Regions from separate parts of the Homo sapiens genome. Here region 2 is linked to region 1. A link means that fine-mapping ties the variant in region 1 to the expression of a gene that starts in the linked region. Tissue or cell type: sun-exposed skin. Region 1 holds a variant in brackets; the other region holds the start of a gene. All regions are shown on one strand. Distances are from middle to middle.

The links. PIP is the estimated chance that this variant, and not a neighbour inherited with it, causes the effect.
Region 2: KLHL31 starts here. The variant in region 1 is fine-mapped to the expression of KLHL31 in sun-exposed skin (GTEx, PIP above 0.99).

What each region holds. Positions count from the first base shown.
Region 1 is chr6:53,792,290-53,795,051 of GRCh38, reverse strand. LOC124901333 (a long non-coding RNA gene) reads left to right here and starts at 1,377. Exons shown (of 5, transcript XR_007059619.1): 1 at 1,377-1,511; 2 at 1,703-1,769. LRRC1 (leucine rich repeat containing 1) reads right to left here and starts at 47. Exons shown (of 14, transcript NM_018214.5): 1 at 1-47. RefSeq lists silencers at 1-181, 1,227-1,356. The variant G/A (reference allele first, on the strand shown) is at 1,639.
Region 2 is chr6:53,664,281-53,666,899 of GRCh38, reverse strand. It overlaps KLHL31 (kelch like family member 31), which reads left to right and starts at 1,144. Exons shown (of 3, transcript NM_001003760.5): 1 at 1,144-1,299.

The sequences.
Region 1 (2,762 bases):
CGCCCGCCAGCCGGTGCCTCCACTCCCACCCGCCAGTCGCCGTCGCCGCCCCCGCCGCCGCGCGGAGCTTCCTACTCGCAGCCGCCGCGCGGACTGAGCATGCGCGCCAGTGGGTGCGCGCCGAGGGCGTTTCCCGGCCCGAGGGATGCTCCGCTCCGGGTTTTCCCGGCGACCTGCATCCAGAGAGGGTCGACTGACCTGCGGGCCGGCTGCTGGCGGTCTGCTTACTCCGGCAAAGACGGGGGCGCATCGGGCCGTTTGAGGAAGGCAGACTGTGAAAGGACTTGGGACAAAGATGAGGCGGAGTAGAGGCGGCCTGAGCAGAGCAGAACAACTTTGATATTTAGTTTTATTTAACTCGCACTCCTCTCCTTGCTCCCCTTCCCCAAAACAACTTTCTCTTCCGGGGTCACACAGGACCGCCCCAAAGCGTACCTTGCGCGCCGGGGGCGCCAGGCGCTACTGGATTCGGTGTAGTTTTGAGGTGTTTGCACCACCCTCGCTGCTGCTTTCGTGGCTGCCCGTGTGCCCGCTGCTCACGGCTGCCCCAGAAGTGTGAGCTGGCCGCGCCCGGCCCTCTGGTCCTCGGGCACCGCCTGCAGGCTTTGTAACTTGGGAGCACATCTCTGGTGATCATGGTTTATGCAGTGAGTGATAGTAAATCCTCCTCCCTGTACCAGCAAAGGCATAGGAGTCTGAGAGTCTGCGAGATTCTCATAGATGTGGTTGCACCTGGCAAGGAGCCCAGCTGCAGAAATAAGCAGGCAAACGCGAGTTTCTGAGCCAGTTCCAGCCCGGCCCAGATGTTGGCCCCTGACAACTAGCTGTGGCTGGTGCGGAGGGAGGAGCGAGGGAAGAGGGGCAGATCGAGGCTGCCAGGTGAGCATCCTCCATACAGCTCCTGCTTTTCTGCTACAACCCCAGTCCCGTCCAGCCCGGATGACCGGGGAGGCTCACTATTGGGTTATAACAACCATTCCCTCGCCCCGACTCATTCCTGCGGACCACGGCCGGAATCCTGAACTGCCCCTCTTTGCCTGTAACTGTTTGCAACACAGTCCCCATCTCCGAATAACCAAATTTTCTCCTTTAATGAAGGGTTGCTAAAGTCAAGGTCAATCACAATGATGAATCATTTCCTTGGGGGCTTCTCTGATTCCCCACCCGGCCGCCCCTTCGTTCCACACTTTCCCTTTCAAGCATACTCAAACTCCAGGTTTCCACCTGCGGCCGCTGCCACGCTGGCTCTCCCACACTCACTCCCGCCCTCCAGCTGCTATAGCTAAAATCTGGAGCCACGGAGTTCACTTTTCTATAGAAGACAAAGCTGAGCATGCTCAGTGGCCAAGGCAAAGTTTGGTCGGAAACTAGTTTTTGCATTAGACTCTCCATGGGCTCCATAGACTCTCCTGTACCTTACGACTAGGCACAGGAGCGTTTCCCCGGTGAAATGGAGAAGAGGACACTTGGTCTTTTCAACTTTACTAGGAGGGCTCCTTTCTTCCCAGTCCGTAAGGAGGGGTCTGACTTTCATTTCCACCCCAGCATTATCACCTTAACTCTCATTCCAGTCAATCCCGAAACTCCGTTGCCCTACCCACTTCACCCTTCTTTTGTTTGTCCTGATTTGATTCCTGC[G/A]TTCTCACAGAGGGCTACCTGGACTTTGAACCTCCACCCCCCTTTCTACATTCTTGCATTCCAGAAACATATGAAGCTCATTTCTGCCACCCTTCCTAGAAAACTGGTTCCTGACAGAGACATGTGGAAAGGTAAGTAAGTCCCTGTCTTCAAGTTTTCCAACTGCTTTTTAAAAAAAAAATTAAAGAAGGCTAGTTCCCTCCATTTAAAATAATGTGATTTCCAGAGGTTATCACACTAGATTATTTTAACGAACACCAAATGTATTTTAAAGACGTGTCCAGTCTTTTAAAAATTCAGACCTCAATAAGCATTCCTTGTGTGCCTCTCCATGATGCTTCAGCTTCTCTGTGTTATTATTTTTGTATCACCTTAATCCGAAAGAGATTATGACCTCTTAAACAACAGATACTGTCTCACTTGCTTTGTAGATCTGGGAAGCTGCCACAGTGCCATATGCACAGTCAATGATCAACAGTTTTTGTTGATTTAATTCTATGGGTAGTCACTGGGAGAATTCTTGACTTTCCTTGTTTCCAATAATCTGCCAAGAATTTGAAACAGCGTAGTAAGAGAGAAAAAATGAAACAACACCTTGTCAACTACAGAATAGGGAAGCAATTAACTTTTTACTCACCTGAAGAATTTTAGGGTTTCCCGCCTGATAAAACATCTAGTTTCTTCCGCCACATACAAATGAGTTTGACTCAATTTAAACAAAGTTTAAAAAGACCACCTAAATCACTTTATTCTTAGAATAATGTAATTCTTTTATTCATTTGTACTGTGAACCATGTTTTCACAGCCTTTGAGCTAAAGAGATCTGTGTTTGAACTCTTGTTATGCCACTAGCTTCGTAGAAATTGACAGTTTACTTAACTTGTATAAGCCTCAGTTTTATCATATCTCAAATGAGGATGATTCATGGGATTGTTATCTGGATTAAATGAAATGACATATGTAAAATGCTTAGTACAGTATCAGACACACATTACTTTAATCAATAAATATTAATTATGCACTTTATTAGCCAGCCTCCAGGAAGTTAGGGACAACATCCACCATCTCCTGGTTGGTCTATGTAACCAACTTTTTCTTTCTCGAATCACTCACTTTGGGGAAGC
Region 2 (2,619 bases), 130 kb after region 1:
TTACTGCACATTAAAATTTTTGACATTTTAGGCTACAGAAATTTTGACTGAATCCTCTTGCTGTACAACAGCCCCCACAACACTTGCTCTCAGGTGTCTCACTTATCTTAAAAGTCCTCTCTTTGTCATACTTCTCTTCAGATGTTTCCAACATGCACCGCCTCTGAAGTTTTTTTGTTCCAGCCATCTCTGTAGGATGAAGAGTAAGTTCTCAGAGTGCCAAGATAGCAAAGTGATGCTTAACACATCATCTGACTAATGAAGAATAATTAGAACATTTATTTTCCATGATCTATTTTTCTATTATTGTAGCTTAATATCATGTTAACTTTTTAAGCAACCATTTCACACTCTTGGTGCCCATTAAAATTTGTAGTCAATTATAATCATTGAATTTTTTTTCTCATGAAGTGTTGCCAAAGTAGATATTTCCCAACCTGCATGTGTGCTAGAGTGTGTGTTAATCTCAGACCTCTCTGTGATCACTGGAAAATCGCTGGCCATAAACCTCACTTTATTAAACTCTAAAATGAGCCTAATAATGTTAGAACCACATGTGAGGTGCTGTAGAAAGTACCATATCTGGTAGATACGTGCTCCTCTTATAAAGAATAGGCTATTTATAACCACTATCTTCTCAAAAGACCGTAGGTGACCAGGCTAATTACCTTTCCAAAAACTAATTTTTAATCCACAGCCTTCCCTTCTCCTTACTCTACTAGAATCCCTGCTTCCAACAATTAAACATCCATCGAATTAATTTTCTTTCCTCTCACACAGGTTGATTGAGCTCTTGACTTTCTTTCTTTCTTTCTTTCTTTCTCTTTCTTTCTTTCCTTCCTTCCTTCCTTCCTTCCTTCCTTCCTTCCTTCCTTCCTTCTTTCTTTCTTTCTTTCTTTCTTTCTTTCTTTCTTTCTTTCCTTCTTTCTTTCTTTTCTTTTCTTTTCTTTTCTTTTTCATTTTGAGCAGCTGGTCAGTTCAAGAAACCCAACCCCTCTCCACCAACCGGAGCCCCGCCCCCTGCCCCCGGCTGGCTGGAGAGTTGAAGGCCAAAGACGGAGAGGAGGGCGCTCGCTGCTCTGCTCCCGGGCCAAAGCGCAGGCTCGGCCTGCCTTATCCAGTGGGACGGCAAAGGGTCACTCTAAAAATTGCTGCAGCCGGGTCTTGTCAGGTGGCTGCTGGTGGCTCCCCACCGGATTTTCCTTCTCCCTCTCTCTATCTCCACAGATCCCTTCCCAAGAGGAGTCTCCTGCTAAAACTTCATCATCTCAAGTTGACCTGCCACTTCACCCAAGGAGGGTAAGGAGCTGGGACCAGAGTCGCCAATTCCTGCCTTCTAGATCCTGGGGTGTGTGTGGATGTGTGGGTGGGAGAGGGTGGGCTGAGTGTTTGTGGTTGTAGAGCTATTTTACTGAAGGGAGTCTACAGCTGGGTCAGGTGGTTCATGTCCCTAATCTGAAGTTGGGAGACAGAAAACATTTTTTTGAAATCTGAGAAATGTAACGTGTTAGGAGAACTTCACGGTAACAAAATGCATGACAATGATGCCCTACAAATGTAAAACCACCTGTAATTTCTAACAAAAATTCTAAATCTCTAAAGCTTAAGATATATTTTTCTTTCACTACTTTATAGAGAAGGAGAAGGAGAGAAAATTCTTAGGCTTTGTTCACAAAGTTTAGAATTCTACCTTTATTTTTATCAAGAATCATTTTAACATTTGTTACTGATCAGTTTGGATGAAATGTTACCAGTTTTAACTAAATCTGTAGCACAAAACTCAGACAACTCTGAATTCCCAGAAATATAACCTATTGATGAAATGGAAATATCCTTCCTAAAAAAAAAAAAAAATTTGTTATTTGGCTAAAAAATAGGTTTTTGTCTTAAATGTGCACATATCATTATGCTGACATATATTTTATATTAAAAATCATGTTGGAAGTGTAATGGTGAAGTGGAAACCACCCCCCTACACCCCACCCCGAGGTTGGACTTAAAATGGCAAGCCACAGAAGCCAGGAGGGTTTCTATTCCTGGAGGTAGGGCTGATGAGCCCCGACAGATGCAGCGATAGGAATGTGGCCAGGACAGGGAGCAGGCGCAGCTGATTCGCCCCTTTGGCAAAAAGACATTCTGGGATCCCAGTTCATACTGGCATGAGAGTGACAGTGACACTTTAGCACACATGGCTTTCCAGTTTACCCTGTTGTGGACTCCCAGGAAGCATGGGTGCAGGGCAGTGGGAAGGAAAATGTTCTCAAATATGAAGTAACAACTCTTTTCTATAACCAGTTCTGGGGGTCTTCATCTGGGATCAGCTGGGGCCAGGAAGAATTTAAGTGCAATACTTTCACATGGACTTGCCCACTTACAGACAAGGGTCCAATTATGTACCATTGCTTGGCAGCATTATTCTCAGTCCAGTCATTTTGGATCTATTTCGGGTTATGGATCTCATGAAAACGCTGAGCCCAGTGTGTGGAAAGTACACATAAACATATGCACACAGTATGTTTCAGACTATTCCGCAGGACTCATGGACTCACCTGATACCCAGCCCTGATCAGGAATGCCAGATACAAGTCAGGTCATCCAGCTACATTTGAATTTCAGGTA